Linked DNA regions of Homo sapiens: regions 1, 2 and 3 are each linked to region 4. Evidence: fine-mapped expression QTL. A gene starts in region 4. Each other region holds a variant in brackets. All regions are shown on one strand. Distances are from middle to middle.

Evidence for each region. PIP is the estimated chance that this variant, and not a neighbour inherited with it, causes the effect.
Region 1: its variant is fine-mapped to the expression of A2M-AS1 in prefrontal cortex (ROSMAP, PIP 0.95).
Region 2: its variant is fine-mapped to the expression of A2M-AS1 in whole blood (TOPMed, PIP 0.99).
Region 3: its variant is fine-mapped to the expression of A2M-AS1 in lung (TOPMed, PIP above 0.99).

The regions. Positions count from the first base shown.
Region 1 is chr12:9,095,745-9,100,869 of GRCh38, forward strand. A2M (alpha-2-macroglobulin) reads right to left here. Exons shown (of 36, transcript NM_000014.6): 14 at 3,637-3,779; 15 at 2,863-3,012. It also overlaps a transcript of KLRG1 not described here. Among named protein-coding and RNA genes, the nearest start is that of A2M, 18 kb to the right of the region's middle. The variant T/A (reference allele first, on the strand shown) is at 2,705.
Region 2 is chr12:9,236,123-9,241,280 of GRCh38, forward strand. MIR1244-3 (microRNA 1244-3) reads right to left here and starts at 3,429; the gene lies at 3,345-3,429. LINC00987 (long intergenic non-protein coding RNA 987) reads left to right here and starts at 3,951. Exons shown (of 7, transcript NR_137434.2): 1 at 3,951-4,417; 2 at 4,996-5,158. It also overlaps the pseudogene A2MP1 and the pseudogene PTMAP4. RefSeq lists an enhancer at 4,285-5,158. The variant G/T (reference allele first, on the strand shown) is at 2,693.
Region 3 is chr12:9,154,886-9,160,043 of GRCh38, forward strand. It overlaps PZP (PZP alpha-2-macroglobulin like), which reads right to left. Exons shown (of 36, transcript NM_002864.3): 25 at 5,053-5,140; 26 at 3,535-3,691; 27 at 2,882-2,956; 28 at 2,290-2,470. It also overlaps a transcript of KLRG1 not described here and the pseudogene TPT1P12. Among named protein-coding and RNA genes, the nearest start is that of A2M, 42 kb to the left of the region's middle. The variant T/G (reference allele first, on the strand shown) is at 3,095.
Region 4 is chr12:9,062,552-9,067,709 of GRCh38, forward strand. A2M-AS1 (A2M antisense RNA 1) reads left to right here and starts at 2,626. Exons shown (of 2, transcript NR_137425.1): 1 at 2,626-2,677; 2 at 3,275-5,158. It overlaps LINC00612 (long intergenic non-protein coding RNA 612), which reads right to left and starts at 2,519. Exons shown (of 3, transcript NR_034140.1): 1 at 1,717-2,519. It overlaps A2M (alpha-2-macroglobulin), which reads right to left. Exons shown (of 36, transcript NM_000014.6): 36 at 5,157-5,158. It also overlaps a transcript of KLRG1 not described here. RefSeq lists silencers at 1,855-1,904, 1,965-2,014.

The sequences.
Region 1 (5,125 bases), 33 kb after region 4:
TTTTTTTTTTTTTTTTTTTTTTTTTTGAGACGGAGTCTCGCTCTGTCGCCCAGGCCGGACCGCGGACTGCAGTGGCGCAATCTCGGCTCACTGCAAGCTCCGCTTCCCGGGTTCACGCCATTCTCCTGCCTCAGCCTCCCGAGTAGCTGGGACTACAGGCGCCCGCCACCGCGCCCGGCTAATTTTTTGTATTTTTAGTAGAGACGGGGTTTCACCTTGTTAGCCAGGATGGTCTCGATCTCCTGACCTCATGATCCACCCGCCTCGGCCTCCCAAAGTGCTGGGATTACAGGCGTGAGCCACCGCGCCCGGCCTTTGTGACATTTTTTAAGTTCAAGGAGAAAAGAACAGGAATAATGAACATCCGTCTTTCTTTGAGCGCTCTCATTGCTTTGATGATTTATAGAGGGTATGGATCATTTTCTTGACACAGTGTTTTCATTTTGAAGATGTTTAACAATTTTAGGAAAAACCAAACACTCCATCTAAGTACTCATCTAAGTACTAAGTACTACTTCGTTACACAGTTCAGAGGCCACCACTAGACTCAACACTGGAATGAAATAAAACTTTATTAATTGAAAAATCGAGGTCTGCTGTATTTGTGACATTGCACAAAGCTTTGAGATGATAGAAGGAAATGATAGTTTTGTGCTTATCTTGTGGTGAGCAACTGACTCAGTATATAGCAAAGTTAATGGGTGCATGTTCTAAACAGGCACACGAATAGGAATATCCTCTCTCCACAGGACACGATGGCATTTTCTTAGGTATTATTAGTGGAAACAAAATGCTCCAGATCTTCATATAATACATACAACTTTAACCGTAAAATTCTAGGCATGATGCTTTCAAGTCCATTTGAAGGTGAGAAGTAAGACAGACATAAAAATTGTGATAGTTACATTGCATTATATTCGTAGGAGTTTAAAACTGATTGACAAGAACAGATGAGCAAAGTGAGTGGTGTGATGAAATTAGACACTTTCTCAAAGTATCTTAACATTTCTCATTTCCTCTCCCTGCTTTTATTGTGGCATATTGCATAATTATTGTCTGTCTCATCTATGGGACAGACAATGTAAGTTCCATGAGACATACATTTTTATCTTTCCAGTAGCTCACTGCTTGATCTCTACTAGCACTTAGTATAATACCTAGAACACAGTGGGCATTAAATAAATGTGTTGAATGAATGACCTACACTAGTAGCAGCAAAGTGTTTCATTGGTAAGACACTAATCAAAGCTTGAGAAGAGTTGGTGTTTTAACTCAGGTCTACTACTAAATCCCTGAAAGCTTCTGCTTTATTATTAATAAATAGGACTGTCTGCCTTATCTACCCATCAGGGTTGTTATAATTTGAAAAATTCTTTGAGAATTATAAAATTATATTATAAAAGTATAAAACATGTATATTATTTTCCCACATATCCTCTTGAGATCCTACTGTTGAAATGTACTTGATGCTTCCTTTAGAAGTATTCTAATATTTTCAGTTAAAATCCCATTAGAAGGACAAACAAGTAAGAAACATTTTTTTATAAGTTTCTATTTCAGGAAAATAAAAATATAAATTTCTCTTTGTTAAATTATGGTAGTAGAAAAAGCTTCAGTAAGAGGTTATTACAATTGGTCTCATATTAAAAATTTGAAGATGTGAGCAAACTACTATTAGTACATGCTATTAACTAGTTTTTGTTGTTCCAATTCAGCATATCCTTTTGGTATTTCTTCTATTAGCTCCATATTTTCAAAGAGTTCAGTTATCAATGTCAATTATATAGTAGTTCAATTTCCCTAAGTTTTGTTCCTCAGAGATAATACATATGTTCCCTCAGAAATTATGTGTAGCTTGGGACAGCAATTATTTCAACTGATGTAATTCTTTTTTTTTTTTTTTTTTTGACACCAAGTCTTGCTCTATTGCCCAGGCTGGAGTGCAGTGGCACGATCTCGGCTCACTCAACCTCTGCCTCCTGGGTTCAAGTGATTCTCCTGCCTCAGCCTCCTGAGTAGCTGGGATGACAGGCGCCCGCCACCACGTCTGACTAATTTTTGTATTTTTAGTAGATACGGGGTTTCATTATATTGGCCAGACTGGTCTCAAACTCCTGATCTCAAGTTATCTGCCTGCCTTGGCCTCCCAGTGTTGGGATTACAGGCGTGAGCCACCAGGCCCAGCCATAATTCTTATAAAAACGGAAATCTGATATTTCATTTAGCCTGTATAGCCTCAGTGCAGGTATATGTATCACTTTTGTTAGGCTTTTTGAAATGTTGAAACTAGTTTGACAACTCCTATTACTGGTTGCATGGAGCTCTGGGATTTTAAGGACTTTGGGTACTGTATGGTCTTTTTACATTTTAAATATATAATTTTCGAACGGCTTCCCCGGTTGCTCAGTTAATCCTTTCTTTTATTTTGCATAACTGCACTTCTCATATAGCACTTTTCACAATCTGCTCTGTATTCTCTCCAGCCTTGCATATACGGATGTCCTGACACAATCAGAAGATTTGAATTTGTATTGCTATGTGCTCTTGAGCAAGAAGCTTAACGTGTCTGAATAACGAGTCCTTTTTTGGTTGTTAATTTTCATCACATTTTGTCCTTTTAAAAATTCTTTTATTTGATTCAATATATTGTATTTTGTTTATTTTTTTAACTGCAGAAGTGAGTAGTTATATATATATATATATA[T/A]AATTCCTTACCAATGAAAGCCCACAAGAGAGCTCAAAGCAATTAATTCCTAGATAAATATAATTTTAATTGATCTTATCCTACTTATCCAGTCATTTTTCCTTGCTCTGAGCCCCTGGCACGGCCCTTCTTGATTCCTGAGGCTGCCAGGAACTCACCGAGGACGCCGAGAGCTCAGCATCAGGCTTCATGAGCAGCACGCTTTGGTCCACAGCACGGAGGGCGCAGACGGACTGAGGAGCCGCTGTGACTCGCAGGTGGGCGTGTGAGGCTGGGAGACTTTGTGATGGGCTGAAGCTCAAATCCACCTGTGAAATTGGAACAAAAGGTCAGAAAAGCAAATTTCCAGGTTTACCCATGCATTCACTCGCATTTGCAGAGTGTTCCTCATGTACAATGTATAACCACTCTGCTTGACTTCGTGGAGGGTTGGCATTGTGTCAATCCTGAAGCTTTTTGTTCCCTACACTTCTCTTTCATTCTCAAGAATCACTTGAGCCAGTAGAATTATTTCTAATTATTCTTATAAATTACTAGTCATGAAATGCCATTTTTATCTTTGATACACGGCAAGGTGCTCATTAATTGTGGTGGGACATGCATGGGTCTAGGTGCTCTTGCATTTTTCTTTTGGCTCCTTAGTAGTCTTAAAAACTTGCTTACATATTTCCCAACGTTTCATCATAGAAGAAGGGAATAACATACTCTGAACTGTGTAATTGGTAAGAGGCACTGCTAGGAGAAGTTTGAGAGTTTTGTATAAGGAATCAAGTGATTCTGCTTCTTAGTGTGACTCTGCCACTACCTTGCTGAATGTCTCTGGGGAATTTGTTTAACCCTTTTGGCCCTAATGTTCACATGTGTAAAACAAATGATAACAATAGTAACTTCTAGTTTTACATGTTGAAGATTTTATGATCTAAAACACACACCTTGTTGGCCAGACAATTTTCAACATCATATTTTGCAGAATCCCCAATCACGTCCCCGGTAGGTAAAACAGCATAGATGAGCAACCGAGCGACAGGAGCAATGTCTGACTTCACAGGGATTGAGATGGAAAAATGGCCCTTCACTGGGGCACAAAGAGAATGAGAGGAAGCCATCATAGGTTAATGACTATTTCCATTAGTAGATGTAACAGACATAATAAACAGTAGATGTAACAAATGGATGATTACCTCTAAGGACTCTAGCTTTAGAAAAAAACCCTATCAAAGCCCTCTCTCCTCTCATAAATCATATACTCTGTTGATTTTTCACCAGCTTTAAGCTTCAGCTCACCCACCTAATGTTCTGATGCTAGTTAAGGGTATGAAGACATCCAATTCACTACCATTTGATCTAGGCCTCATACTAGAAGAGGGAAATAGAACCTGAAGTTATGAGATGTAAGAGTAAGAGTTCAACACATTGTATTCATGCTACATGCTCTTTAACCTTCTATGAGCCAATATTTGGTTCTTTCTCCATAAGAGGAACACCATGCTCCTTCAGAAGTTATTTTTTGATGCCTATGTAGATTCTTTAGAGGTTGCATTAAGTTTCCTTCAGTCTGCTATGGTGCTTCTGTGTTGCTACAAGAACTAATGAGAGAGTAGATTACTGATACTTTTCTAGCAAGTTATCTTTTAGAGTCTACTAGACTAGGAGCAACCTTCAAAGGTTTATATTATGACATATTTGCTCATGGCAAGAGTCCGCTTCAGTCGGTAGAAGTACCCAATTTAATGCTTCATAAATCATAACTATCTTGAAAGGGAAAAAAGATATTTATAATAATATAAATGACATAAATGACTCAGCACAAGACCTGGTATATACAACATACCTTGAAATCGTACATTTTCTCCACCCCATTCTCTAACACAATTCTCATTTTGAGAAGAGGTTCAAGAATATTTATGGTTTAAAAATCTGGAATAAGCATAGATTATACACAACAATATTTTATGTATTTTATTTTTCCCCCTTTGTTCTTATTTATTTATTTATTTATTTATTTACTTTTATAGAGATGGGGTCTCACTATGTTGACCAGGCTGGTCTCAAACTCCTGACCTCAAGAGATCCTCCCATCCCGTTCTCCCAAAGTACTGGGATTACAGGCGTAAGCCATCATAGCTGGCCCACACCAATATTTTAAATAACGCAAAGAAAATAGGCTGAAAAAAAAGACAACACATATTTGATAAAGGGTGAGAAAAAAACCATTATTGTTTTCCCTCCCTCAACTTTCTTTTAATTAATATTAGATGGAAATGGTCTCTCGTTACTTGAAAGTATTCCTGATATTCCCAGCTCAGGAATGGAAAACCAAACATCATATCTTCTCACTCAGAAGTAGGAGCTAAGCTATTAGGAAGTGGCAGCTAAGCTATTAGGAAGTGGGAGCTAAGTTATGAGGATGCAAAGGCATAA
Region 2 (5,158 bases), 170 kb after region 4:
TTGAATTTTCTACTTGTATATTGGGACATTTTATTGAAAATCACGACAATGACTATCGAATCTTAATGAAACAGATGTTGATTTTCGTTCACCAAAAAATATTTAAGAGATTATGGCTCTTCTTTTTGAGGTAATCTCTCACCACTGATGAGGTAGCTAGTGGCTTTGGCCTTGATCTTCTCTGTCAGCTGTCGTGTCTCATTTAGATAGTTTAGAACATAAATGTTAGGGACAAAAAGGACCATATTCTGCTCTCCACAACCATAGGGCATCTGAAGAAGGTTCTGAAGGTTTTGCACTACAGAGCCTAGTATATCACCTGTGGAATAAAAGTTGTAAAGAAATCAGATATGGTTTGTATTAGGCTAGGAAAATAGATTATTAGCTAACTGAGAGGCCAAATAACCTATAGAGAAAAGGACAAGAAGACTAAAAAAGGTGAAAAAACAAGAAATAGGGAGGAAAACAAAAGGTGAGAAAATAGACGGTTTAAGGATGGAGAAAGGGGGGAAGAAACTGAATGGTAGGTGATCTATCTTTTCTCATGGGCCACATGTCTGGTAAAACTCAACCACAACCATTTTCAAACTGACTAGGAAGCATTACCACCTAGTAAATTGCTTGAAGATGAGGGCACTGAGAGGTGACCCTTTCTTTTTAGAATATATCAAGGCATAATATGTAGCACAACATCTATTCAAGCCCCTTTCCAACTGTAACATAGTGTAACCCTTAGTGCTTTCTCTCAATCCATTGCCTGTTGTCAGAAACTTCATTAATCGTGGATGGTGAGGCCCATGCACTAGAATTATACAGCCAGACAGCTGCTTCCCTTGGGCTGAAAGAATCACCTAAAACTGAATATGTTGCCCTTGGAGATCCTTCAACCACATTTGAAGGAACATTCAGTGACACCTTTTCAGGTACTCCAGTATCTAATGAAAGAAGAAAAACACACATATAAAGGAGGGGAAAGTGAGAGAAATGTTCTATTTTTGTTATGAATCATGTTTCTCTACATCATCTAGATCCAACCTTTTATTTTCCTTCGTCATTATATAACTTTTTTTTTTTTTTTTTTTTTGTGATAGAGTCTCCCTCTGTCACCCAGGCTGAAGAACAGTGGCGTGATCTCACTGCAACCTCTGCTTCCCAGGTTCAAATGATTCTTGTGCCTCAGCCACCTAAGTATCTGGGATTACAGGCATGCACCACCACACCTGGCTAATTTCTGTATTTTTTATAGAGACAGAGTTGGCCAGGCTGGTCTTGAACTTCTGATCTCAAGCGATTTGCCTGCCTCCATCTCCCCAACTGCTGAGATTACAGGTGTGAGTCACCATGCCTGGCTCAGTTATTACATAATTTCTTTGATACAATCCAAGTTTCCCTTAAAGCCATGATTCATCTCTCAGTGAAATTCATATTCATCATATACATTTGTGCTAAATTTCTATGGCTTTTCCTATGGGCATATACTTATGGTATGCTTATTTCCTTCTCTTCATGGTTTATATTAATTCCTGCTACTGTTAGTGCTTTTCAAGAATTACATTCATTCCATTCATTTGTATTCAGTGTATACTATGTACCAGGTTCTAAGTGCAATGATACCGAAAGTTTCAAAACAAATTTCCTGGCCTCCTGGAGATTTCATTTTTAGGGGAAGACTACGATAAAAAAGCAAGAGTATATTTAGTATACTAGATGTTGATAAGTGCTATAGAGAAAATTAAAGCAGGGCAAGTGTTTCTATGGTGAGCTAGTAAAACAAGGCAGGTCAGGAAGTGGGGAGGGGGCTCCCTATGGAAAAGCTCATTGATAAAAAGTCCTGTGTGAGCAGAGACTTTAAGTAAGTCAAGGAGCCAGATTTATCCAAACCTGGGGGAAGATACTTCCAGGAAAAAGGAACAAAAAGTAAAAGGACTCCAGAGACTGAAGCATGCTGGGTGTATTCCAATAGGAAGAAAGAGGTCAGTGTGGCCGGAACGGGTTAAGCGAAGGAGAGATTAGGAAGACGTGAAGTCATGGGGTAGCAAGGGTTTCTAAGTGGCATTAAAAACTTACGCTTTAACTTAGGGGGGATATGGGAGATTCCTGAAAGGGTTAGAGAAGAGGAGGGACACGATCTGACACATGTTTTAAAGGATCCCTCTCGCTGAAGGGGAACAAGAAGAGATGATCAGGAGACCAGTTAGAAAGCTATTGAGAGCCTGCAAGAGAAAGGACTAGAATAGTAGAGATGGAGAGAAGTGGGTAGATTCTGGATGCAATTTGAAGGTGGAATCGACTAGATTTGTGCATGGATTGGGTAGGGAAGATAGGGGAAAGAATGTAGTAAAGAACTCCAAAGTGTTTCTCCCTAGCAAATAGAAGAATGGATTTTTCATCATCTGAGATGAAGGAAATTGAGGGAGGAGCAGGTTTGTGAGGACGAGCAGATACTCAGTCTTAAACTTGCTGATTTTGATATGCCTATGAGACCTACAAGCCTGTAAGTGGAGAGTGGGCAGTTGAATACATGAGTTTGAGTTCAGGAAAAAGGTGTGGATCAAAGTTGTACAGTTTTGGACACAAGTACATAGTTGTTATTAAAGCCATTGACTAGATGATTTTATCAAGGGATCCTCGTATAGAGAAGAGAGATCTGCAGACTGAGCATTATCGTCAAGATGATTATAGGTGGCACAGA[G/T]TTGGGTTTTTAATGATAATTTAAATAAACTTAAAAAAGTGTTAGCTTTTCCCCTTCTCTTTCAATATAGTGGTAATTTTTGTATTGCTATATTAATGATATTGGTAAAATACTGGTTTTCTATACAAGTTAGTAACCTGGAGTTCCTCTTAAAATAACTTGTTTAAGTAAAAACATGAGTGCATTTAAACTGTCAATTGAACAGTAAATCATACTAGTGTCACACAGATATTTCAATATTTTGAACATGGTTTAGGAAGACATTTGAGAAACACAGAGGTATCAGAAAGAATCCTGTCCTGAGGTCAACAGCCTTAGACCTTATTATTAGGCAAGAGCTTTTAAGCTTTTAAGCAAGTCTTTTATTTCTCTATGCCCATTTCTTTATTCTTAAAATACAATAATAATAATTTATCCTAAAAAGTACTTTCTATTTATTTCCCTAAGAGGCTCATTCCAAGTGATTTTCATCAGAACAATGTTTTTCTTTTTTTTTTCTTTTTTTTTTTGCTAGAACAACTCAGCAAAATAAAATTCCTGTTTATTGTTGGACAACATTGTTTCACACATACATCAAACAGGCCAAAAAATAAAAATAAACAGCAACTTCATAGACAAAAAAGGAAAAAAAAGAAACCTTTTATCTTTGGCCTTTTTAACCATCTCATACAAACCAACTACTTATAGTACAGCTAAGTACATACACAAAAAAGTTACTGGAATGCTCGGAATAAGATGGTTTTTCTGTTGTCATTTTTGCATTTTTTACAAGTTTTTTTTTTCTCCTTTGAGATTATAATGAACATGGCCACACCACAAGTAAAGTGAGAAGTAGGACAGAGAACGCTCCGAAGGCTGGTTTGGTCATCCGAGATCATTAAAAATGGCCGACCCTAACAATATGTACAAAAATATAAAATGTAAATAAAAAATACAAGTTTCCTTTTTAAACTACTTTTAAGAAAAAAAAAAAGCAGGGCCTTGGAAGTTTTGGTTCTTTTTCCCTCCCCTGTTGCAAATTCTCATGGTTTGGGTTGGGTGGTGGAGAGCGCGTGTCATCTGCGGGTGGCACTGCCCACGGTGGGCGGGCGGGCCCCTCTACTCGAAGGTGACCACGTTTAGATTCTGAGACGGGAAGTGGAGGGTGAATAGGTCACGGCGGCCTTTTTTTTTTAGTTTAACTTTTCCTTTTTTGCCGTCTGGTCATCCTCGTCGGTCTTCTGCTTCTGGGTATCGACATCGTTATCCTCATCATCTTCAGCTGCCCGCTTGCCCGTAGCTGACTCAGCTCCCTCATCTTCATCTCCATCCTCTTCCTCACCATCACCTTCTTCCTCCCCACCTTCTTCCTCTTCTTCATCTACCTCGTTGTCAGCCTCCGGCTCCCCATTTTCCTCATTAGCATTCCCGTGAGCAGGGGCGTCTCTTCCATTTTCCGCCTCTTCCACAACTTCCTTCTTCTCCTTTAAGTCCTCGGTGGTGATTTCGGAGCTGGTGTCTACGGCTGCGTCTGACATGGTGGGGCACGCCGGTGACGCGATGCAGGGGATAAAAAAGAAAGCGACAGTTCAGGGACTCTGGCGATAAAGCTGCCGGAGTCCGCGGCGGCGGAGGCGGCTGCGGCGAGCAAGGAGGCTGACGACGCACAATGCAAAGACGGCTTTTCAGAGCAGCCAGTGGGGCAGGACAATGTTTTTCATCAAATGTCCTTAGATTTGGAGGAGGGTAAGAGTTGTTTTTTTTTTCTCTCTCTCTCTCAGAGAAAAGCATGCCCCCAAAAGACATTCCACAACTGCATACTCTGGCAAGTCACTTAACATGAAATTTTTCTCTATATATTACACTTACCTGATGCACAGGGCAGCGTGTTGAAAGTTTCCTCCTTTGCTATTCCTTCAGGCTTTATATTGACAAAAAAAAAAAAAAAAAGTAAAGCGATACTGAATGTATAAAAGAAAAATTAAACACTTGAAAGCAAAGGAGAAAATGGTGGTGAAAAATTGGATTGTAGATCTATCCACATTCTTGGGAATTAAATGTCACTGTGAGATGCATGTTAGATAATACTGTATGAAATAATAAGGGCTCTGAGACTCACAGAGAGTAGACTTACGTACCTCAACTAGTAAGGCCTTGACTACAGTGTCCTTCTGCGCAAGTGGTGGGACGTCAGTCAACTCATTGTCACACACTTCCTGAGAATGCATGGCTTCCGCAGTGGCTGTGAAATTCACCTTTCCTGGGGAATAAAGTTCTTAAGAGTTAAACGGTGATTCTATATTGAACAGTTTCTTCTTTTCCAGTTTCCCCAGTGTATCCAGTGGTTGTCTTCCTCTTGATTAATATTAAAGGAGGAGAAAAAGTGTGTATTGGGGTCAGTGCAGAAAACAAATCATCCAAGCACACGAAGTGGAATTTGCTAATAGCATTACTACTCACCCAGTGACTTCGGAGTCACAACCCAGG
Region 3 (5,158 bases), 92 kb after region 4:
TTATAACTGGTAGATAAGAGAATGCACATTCATAATACATGGAGCTGAAAATAATACAGGAGAAGCAAGGTCTTCTATGTCATAAACTCCTAAAACTCACTAACTCACACTTCTATGCTGAACTTGATTTAGTCCTGTGGTACGAAGGTAGGGTAGGTTGATGGAGGAAGAAGCATAGAGCATACTCACCAATCTCTCCAATGTTATTTTAGTTGGACTGATGAAAGAGAAAAGTGGTAGAGAGAGTTCTTTTATTGTTCGTGATATTTTCTGAGAATTGCAGTATAGACTAGAATATAAAACTTAACTATTGACCTCATGTGACTTTTGTGATGCTCTCTCTGGCAAATAGAGATAAAAATAGTTTGAAAATGTTATTGCATTTTCTGTTTGTTGTACCTCTTTTCTTTCTTTTTTTTTCTCTCCAACTGAATCAGTCCGTTTTTGTTGTTTTGTAACCTCTTCCAGAGTTAACTACTTCCATTGTAGGTGATGAAATGTATAAGGCACCACTTCAAATGTTGGCACTGCTATAAGCATGTTCTTTCCTGCTAATTCAACTCAGAATTAAAACTTTTGATTCTTGTTTTGTTTTTTGTTGTTGTTATTGTTGTTGTTGTTGTTGTTTTTGTACTCCATACTCAGAAATAGTTTCCACTGTAGAAGTTATCTCATGGCAGTTGTGTTCTTTCTAGTAGTGGTCTACAACCAGACTCTAGTTTCTCCAAGAACACTACAAGATAGATTGAGTTTAAATATGTACTAAACTAAATGACACTCTTTCAAATGAGTTTGAATGCATTTTGTTTTTAGACAACCTCTATGACATTTTTTCCTTAAAAACAATGCCTCTGCTCCAAATAAATCATGGTCAAAATAAATGAAGATCTCAAGATGACATCAGTTCTACTTGTCTAAGTCCTGGTGTTGTATGGATGACAAGCAGAAGCCAGTTATGACAGGTGATACATCCAAAGTAACTGCCAAATTTGTTAACATTTTTCCATTTCTAAACCATGGAAAATCATCTATGGAGTCACACCATCCTCATGGTAGTCCAGCAGAGGCAGCATGCCATATGGGTTCATGTTTTCACCAATAAAGAACTGGTAGTTTTTATTGCTTCTTGACCTTTTGGCTAAGATCAAATGAAGAACTGGTAGTTTCTGAGATTAGAAAGAGTGTGCTTGATTTGTTCTGCAGCTCCTGTTATAAAAGGTTTTACTGTTTCTGGTCTCTGTTCTTTAAGTTTGTCTTTGATTTTATGTCAGCTTTGATGTACTTCTTGTAGGCTTCTTTTGTGAAGTCAGTTCCTGCAAGTGATTGTTCATGACAATATCAACACCAATGATTACTCTGCTTCCAGTACCTTCGCTTTGGGAAACTTCAGTGAAGGCATCTCCACCAATAAGCGAGTCATCAATGTCACCCTTTGTCCTACTGACCATCTTCCCCTCCACCTCCAGGCACAGTCCTTCCTCCATCTCTGGATCTTGTAAATGTCAGAGAACATCTCAGCGTGGCTGATGAGATCCTGGTAGATAATTATGATGGTAGCTGAAAGGAGACTATAGCAGCACTAGCTTAGGAGAAGCCCAGAGCATGAAGTGAGCATGGTGCAGCCAGGACGGCATTGGGTGGGAATTTAGGGGGTATGGAAGAGCTGTTGTACCTCTTTTCATTCAAGTAAGTAGAGAGAAATCATGAGAAAATGAATCTATTTGTCTATTATATTGGTTTTAGCAAGTAGAAATAAAACTGCATTATTTATCTGCAGCATTATGTCTATTATGTTCTGCTCTGTGTAACATATGCAATCCCAGAGAAGACAGTTTTATAAGAGGTGCTCTGATCTCACAATGTATGACTTGGCTAAGGAATTACAGATGAAGCTTGTGGATTTCAGAAGGAATATATTTCTTCTTTTTGTAGAATCAGTGTAAATGGAAATGGAAATTTGGTACCATTTGCTGTTTGCTCTCACCTTTTTTTGCACAGTTTTTAAAAAAACTTTTATTATTTATCTATTTATTTATTTATTTTTTAAATGTTATTTTATTTTAAGTTCTGGGGTACATGTGCAGGATGTGCAGGTTTGTTACATAGGTGTGCCATGGTGGTTTGCTGCATGTATCAGCCCATCACCTGGTTATTAGGTCCCCCATGCATTAGCTATCTATCCTGATGCTCTCCCTCTCCGCACCTCCCAGACAGGCCCCAATGTGTGCTGTTCCCCTCCCTGTGTCTATGTGTTCTCATTGTTCAGCTCCCACTTATAAGTGCTCTCACCTTCTTTCACAGCTTCCTTATCAAGTGAGTTCAGTATTTCTCTATTCTGATTTTGCTTTCCCAGTAGGGAAAAAGCATAGGCCAGCAATGCCTTGGTGTAGACATGGCTCCCATGGGTCCCCTCCTTTGCTACATTCCAGGCTGACTCCAGGCAGAACAGGGCATTGCGAACAATAGGGTTCTGTAAAGGCAAAATGTGGTTGTGTCAAACTAGGGTGAATAGAGGGCAGAGCAAGCTGAGAGCTGGATATTGACAGTCAGATGTTATTAATAGATTTCAGACAGATAGGCAGACAGCTAGATATTCATCATATTTAAATAGAAAAATATTTCGATCTCTTCCCTTTATAGTTCAGTCTTAAAGAATAAGACTAGAGAACCTGTTTTTAGGATTGGTTTTGATACATAGTCTATGGGCATTACTGGGCAAGTGTAAATCTCTCTTAATGCATCAACCAAAGAGCTTATCAGTCTGAGAAATCCCTCATCATTGAACCAAAAGATACTTGAGACTCAACCCTTAGCAGGGTGGCATTCCAGACAGCAAATCTACAGTTTTCATGGTAGGGAATGGGATTGAGCTGGTACCTACAGTGACTGGGAGAGGAATTTCCAGAAGGGCAATAGTAACATAGGCGGAGAGGGTCGCTTCATCTTCTACACCTCCCTGTGAATACAACATTGATTTGATTAATTCCAGTGCCAAGTGTTAGTATATTCTCTTCTGTTGTTTGATGGAAACGCTCCTCAGTATCTGTTTCCATTCAAAGTATACCATTTCCTTCTCTCTCTCTCTCTCGACAGG[T/G]TCTTGCTCTGTAGCTCAGGCTGGAGTGCAGTAGCACTATCACACATGACAGCCTCAAGCTCCTAGGCTCAAGCAATTTTGCTGCCTCAGCTTGTCAAGTAGCTGCAACTACAGGCACAGGCCACCATGCCTGGCTAATTTTGTAAAATGTTTTTTGTAGAGACTGGGTCTTGCTATGTTGCCCAGGCTAGTCTTATACTCCTGGGCTCAAGTGATCCACCTGCCTTGGCCTCCCAAAGTGCTGTGATTCTACGTGTGATCCACTGCATCTGGCCCAATTTCTTCCTTCTCTGTAGAAAGTGTAATACTCTTTCCCTGATGCCATCCCACATCATCCAGGACTTCATCTTTGCAATTTCCTTGTGCCTCCTTCCTCCCTTCACCCCTGGGGGATGTTATGTTGATGTGTGTCAGGCTCAGAAGTTTGTGGAACAGTTCACCTTTATGGCATTGTTGAGCAGTGACCCAGAGCTCCTGAAACAGCCATTGTCCTTCTGCATCTGGGAGAGCCACGTGAGAGATTGGGTAATGTGTGCTTCATCAATGAAGATGTAGGATCGAGCCTGGGCGAAAGTCTTCAGTACAAAAGCTGTGAGCCTAGGGGGAGGAAAAATGCAGTGCTGAGGCTCTTTTCATTGAGCACTTTACTGCTCTGTTTTGTACACACAGGCTCCCCCATCACAGTGTGCACCCAAGAAAGTCAATCAGCTGTTACTGAGAGTTTGGAGACTTTTTCTTTTTAGCTTAGACATCTCTTTTTCTTTTTTCTTTTCTTTTCTTTTTTTTTTTTTTTTTGCTGCCACATGTTGTTCAATTCATTACCAGCTTGTCCTTGCTTCCTAAAGCATTTCTATGCCACTTCAGAGGTTCAGGTTCCTTCCAGTTTTCTTGGTTGGTTAACTAAGTCATTTGCTTTTACACTGTGGGCTCTATGAATTTATTTCCTTTCCTAGATTTCTTAGCTTACTTTCTGTAGTTTTAACTCTAATCAGCTAACTTCTAATGTTCTGCTTCAGTAAATATTTCCCTCCATCATCCTGCCCTTCCACTTTTTTCCCCTGTGTTTGCCTGTGTGGTAAAACTACAAAGAGAGAGAGAGAAAGGATATCATCTAGTAGAAGGTAGTAAGGTATGCTCTGCCAGTAATGGTTGTGGTTTTATTCTAGCATTTTTCTAACACCTCTTAGGGCTGAGCAACAATTTAAGGGGGCAAGTTACAAACCTATAATGTTCCCTTAGCAACATGAGAAGGAAGAGGGTCTGGGTATATTGGATTAAAAAAATCAACCTAAAAGTGTTCTCAATTTTGCCACTTATTAGATGTTTGCTCCTGACACATTTATTTATCCACACTGAATATGTTTTCTCCTCTGTAAAATGAAGCTAATAACTCTCACTTCCCAGGGTAGCTATAAGAATTAAATAAGGTAACATTATGGTTTAGAAATTGTTTCTCCACCAAAACTCATGTTAAAACTTAATCCCCAATGTGGTAGTATTGAGAGGTGGAGCCTTTAAGAGGTGATTGGCTCATGAGGGTTCTGCTCTCATGAATGGATGAATCTATTCCTAGATTAAAGGGCTATCATGACAGTTGGACTGGTGGCTTCATAAGAAGAGGAGGAGATGCTAGCCCAGTCTCTACAAAGTAAAACAAAGAAAAGAAAAGAAGAGAAGGAGAGACCCAAGTGAGCCCATTCAATCCTCTAGTCATATGATGCCCTGCATCACCGTGGGACTCCTCAGAGTCCACACCAGCAAGAAGACTCTCAACTAGATGCGGCCCCTAGACTTTTGACTTATCAGCCTTCATAGCTATAAGAAATAAATTTCTTTTCTTTATAAATTACCTAGTTTCAGGTATTCTGTTATAAGCAACAGAAAATGGACTAAGACAGGTAATCTATGTGCACGTTCTGAACTCATAGTTGAAACTCAGAATAGATTTTCTTTCTTACCAAGTGTTGCCCTGGTTCCTGCCATATCGTTCCCCAAAGGTGCTGTAGGAGCCATCTTGGTGTTTGTAGTTCAGCTGTCTCTGGTAACCTGAAATGGAAGGCTTCA
Region 4 (5,158 bases):
ATTATACATTTATATATTATACATATACATTTATATATATACATAATAAATACATTGTATTATACATATATGTATATATTATACATATACATTTATATGTATAATATAGTTGACATATTTATATATTTATATCGGATATATTGTACATTTATAATATATTTATTATATTTTATATTATAGTATATTATCATTTATAATATATTGTTATATGTTATATGATATATATTTATAGCAGACATAGTAAATATCTATTGTGTTAGGTGATTTTTTATACAATATATAAATATATCAGATATATTATACATTTAAACAGTTAAACACCTAAACAGCCCAATTTTATGTGGATCAGTACTACTAACGGCTTAGGGTAAAATGACAGCTACAGCATAACTAGAATGTTAAAGTGGCATGTCTCAGACAACGTGGATGGACATAAAGTATTTGAGAGAATATTGCATAATAGAAAAAAACATTGTAAAGACTAAAATACTAAATAAGACCTTTTTTTCCCGAGCAATAATTTGCCCAGGCTGGTCTCAAACTCTTGGCCTCAAATGATCCTCCTGCCTTGGCCTCCTAAAGCATTGGGATTATAGGCATGAACCACTGCTCCTGGCCAGAATTCTTGATTAAACAATAGGGTCTAAATAAATTTAAACCCCTTTTATTCTTTTTATTCTTACAGGGTAGACTCAAATATTCTATTTCTTTCCAACTTTATATTCTTGTCATAACAACCCAGTATTCTCTGAGGCAAATGGATGCTTATGACCAACTGGCCTGAAATGGGGGAATATAGGGTTAGTGGTGAGTCACATATAAGAAAATGCAAGAGAATAGCAGTGTATCATATTTCAAAATAAAATACAAACTATACATAAAACTGACCCCAACAAGTATCCATTTCATTTCCTGTCGTGTATCTATATGCTTTCCTGGAAAGAATAAACTTCAGTTCACAAAATCAGATGTAGAAGATACATCACTTTTAAAAATTCTACGTAATTTTAATTCCAAGATTCCCATGCCACCAGGCTGGTGGGAAATCCAGTTTAAGTTGTAATTAGGCCTTTTCTCCAGTATTACATATGAATTTGAGTGTAATACCCCAAAACTTGAGAAGGCCATTGTATCTCCAGTCCACTGGGGCAATGAATAGCTTGAGCACCTGATCATTATAATGACCCAGATGTGTATCTTTTTCTTTTACTCTGCGGTGAGTTTTTCTAAGGGAGGAATCCTATTTTGTTTAATTTTGTATTATAGCATGGGATATTGTGCCTGGCAGATAGTAGGCAATCAGTTAGTATTTCAGGAATAAACACTCTTGGTCAGTGATACAGCTAATGATTTGCAACAAGCATATCCTTAAAGTACCTTTTCAGTAACGATTTCCATATGAACAAAGAAAAAAACTAGAACCAAGAGGTAAAATTATAATCCTGTTGTCTTGTTCCCATAGCCATACTCTGATTTCTTTTATGTTCTGTGCCCTGGCTTGATACTTAATTTGACAGCTAATTATAATGTTTATTAAGCTCTGAAATATACTTTCTCCTGGCCTTTTTGTCTGAAGTTGTTTGAGGTGTCACCATGGTTGGAAGTTAAGAGCATGGAAGCTAGACTTCTTGGTCTTGAATTCTAGCTTTGTCACTAACTTAGTAACTTTGGGCAAATTACATGTCTCTGCTTCAATTTCATTTGTTAAGGTAGTACCTATTTCACAAGGCTGATGGTGGCAGCAGTGGGGCGTCCAGAGCTGCCGCTGCCATCACGCCAGCTGCAGCAGGGAGGGGCGGGCAGCGGCGGCGGAGCAGCTGCGGGAGCCGCAGTGGCTGCTGTGGGACATCTGTGCCTCGCGTCCCCTGTGCCTTGAGACCCCAAAGCAGCCGACTGCGCCGCCACCATCCTCGCGTTGCCGGGTGGGGCGACGTGCTCCCCGGCCAGGAGCCTCCACCGCTCCGGACCCTGGCCCTATGTCGCCGCTCTCGCCCGCCGCCGCCGCGGAGTGGGAGTGGGGAGGAGGGGAACAGTCCTTGGAGCCGGCCCCGGGAGTACTCCCGGAGCCTGCCGCCCTGGAAGCCGCCACGATGGACCGGGCTGAGTCGCCCGCCGGAGGGGAAGCAGTGTAGTCGGGCACGGAGGGGCAGGCAGAGAGGGGCCCCAAGGCGGAGCTGGGTCCGGGGCGGAGCGGTGTTCGCACACAAAGCGCTGGGGCTGGACCCAGGGTTCGGGGCCAAGGCGAGAAGTGGGAGCGGGGCCCGCTTTGGGGACCCGGACAGCGGTGTGGCCACCGCGCACACCTCCGACAGCGCCGCATTCCTGGGCCTTGGGAGGAGGCTCTGAGTAGGGCCGCCTGGGGCGCGTCTTCAGGGTCCTCCCGGCACTGGGGTGACCGCCGAGCTAGACGCGCCTGAGGGCTGAGCCCCAGGGCTCGTGATCTGCTCCCGGAGGCGCCCCCCAGGCAGGGCCGTGAGCCGGGCGAGGGAGAGTCCTGGGCTGCCCCTGAGCCCCGGGGCCACGGGAAGAACTTGCAGCGACGTCATCCCTGCCCCGGACACAGTCCCGGGCCCAGGGAGGACCTGGAACATTCCCTTCCTCCCCCCCCCCCCCCCCGCCCCCGCCCATCAGCCCAGCCTGCAAGGAGGCGCCACCGGACCTGCACACTCAGGAGCAGGTGAGCCAGGGACAAGCAGGAGCCCCGCCCCTTCCGAACTGGTGGAGCAGGAGCTCCCAGGGTGCAGCTGCAGCCACCTTGCCGCGGCTGTGGACATTTTCTGTGCTCTCAGAGGCCCAGCAAAGTCCCCTGCCCACTGCAGGCTCCAGGGTGCCTACTCCGGCTGCCTGGCTTCTCTCCACTGTTAGCACCCACTCTGAACTCAGAGCAAGGTCGGGCCGAGCCTGGGTACTGTCACAGCCTGGCCGAGCGTGCACACGCTCAGGACAGTGCTGATACGCCAGCCCCCTGCCGTCTCGGCCCCCTTTGGAACTTGGGCACCAACAAGCGTGGGAGGGAGGCTGAGAGGGGTCTGAAGACAGCTGGACACTGACTTGCAGGCGCTCCTTGGCATGAACAGCCTGGGAGCAGGAGGCAGACAGGTTCCTGGGTGGAAGGGGATGGGTCCCCAGTGAAGTCCCACCCTCAAGCTGGTGAGGGCTTGAAGCCTGCAGACCAGAGAGGTAACTTGTGGTGCTGCTCCCTGGGCCCACTCATGGCTGCCCATGGACCAATCAGCATGCATTTCCTCCCTCTGAGGCTCATAAAATCCCCCAGACTCAGCTAGATTGGAAGAGAGGATGGGAAGACAATGGATGACCTACCTGTGGAGAGAAACTACCCATTCCAGAACCTCCTCTCTGCTGAAAGCTGAACACTCAATGGGAAGACCTGTTTGCAGAGAGGAGCCAGCCACTCCAGGGTCTCCGTTCTGCTAGAAGCTGAACACTCGTTGGGACACCCTTGCTGTGGAAAGGACATCCTTACTGTGGAAATGAGCTACTAACTGCAGGTCTCCTTCCTCTTCATCTTCCTTATCCTTCTGTTCCATTGCTCAGTAATGCTCCTCTTCATCTGTCTCATTCTCCACTTGTCTGCTTGATGCAGGAGCTGAGGAGCTGCACAGCAAGGTTAAAAGAGCTGTAACACAAACAGGGCTGCAACATGCCCCTTGCTCCCCACAGGGAGAGAAGAGCTCTGGCCCTCGGAGAAGCCCAGACCTGGGAGCTCCTTGAGCCCGGGCTGTGACTCCCTCTTTGGGGCCCTGGTTGGCGTCACTGCATTCGCCAGTGCCACTGTTGGAAGCTGCTTGTGATGCGCCTGGTCCAGGGGGAAGCTGTTTGTTGTGTGCCTGGTCCAGCCACCTCATGGAGAGCCTGTGCTGGCACCTGGAGCTGCCCAACCTGGGCAGCAGCTTGTGTGTGTGACTGCACAGTGGCCACGCTTGCTCACACACCCCTAGCACACCCCTCTGCTCCACCCGTCTCAATCTCCCTTGGATCCGGGATCCAGGTTGGTAGCAAGTGCGAGTGGGCAGAAGCAGCCCAGTGGGCCCAGAGCAAAACTCAGGCAAAGGTGCCACTAGACTGGCCAGGAAAGCGACACCCTAAAGATCCCATAATGCTGATATGTTAATTCTATTCTATAAGCACCACACAGAAGTGATAGCTTTTATTTCTTATTTTGTCTAGCCTGGAGACAGAGCTAAGGATTCCTTGAACTGCAAAGTCTTTTCCAGTTCTTAGTTTATACAATCCATACTCACCTTCTGCCTAACTAAGCATTGTCATTTTTGTGCCAAATGAAGAGTAGGACTCCTACGATTGTCCTCAGACTCTCTTGGCTCAATCCTCCTGCTTTAACCTTTCCTACTTCAAAAACTCCTGAAGTTTTGCTTCCCCTTCTATAGAATGGAAATATATGTCGCAATACTTACTGCAAAGAAAATTATATATTTTAAAAATAGACTAAAGAGATGTTGTGAGACATCAGACATCAATCAGATGTTGTGAGAACTGATTTCTGCATCAGAATATCTCCTTGACTTTACAGCTATCCTTTAATCCTGGCTCAAAGTTCCAGAAGAAAGATGATCCAATATAATACTCCTATTTGGACTTTGAGTCATACACATTCCTTCTTCTGAGAAAACGTGCTTCTGCATGAATCCTCCCTTCATTATTTTCAGCTCATCTATTATTGAATCTGAAACCCCAGGTTAACTGACTGATCACTCTCATCAGTGGCAGATTTTGGTGTAACATAGGACACATCACTCCCAATTCAGGTCAAGTCCCAATTATCTTGCCTCTCAATATGACATGTTCAATGTTGTATTTCATTCTACTTCATTTTAATGTAAAAAGTCTTTTCTGGTGAAGTCAGTCTTTTATTTTCTCATAAAAATTCACCCTTTGGGTTTTTCATAGGGTATTCCCATAACCAAACACACTTTACACTTTCCTAGTACATAACCCAATACTTTCTTCTTTCCCCACAGTCCTTACATGAAGCCTACTCAGACCGACATCACTGTATCATTTTTTTGTATTCTGAAGTCCTTCAGCACTTGATTCCTTTAAGTTTAATCTTGGTATTCTATTGGGAATCATATGGAAATGTACAATGATATTTATTGAATGAACAGGAAACAGGGAAAGA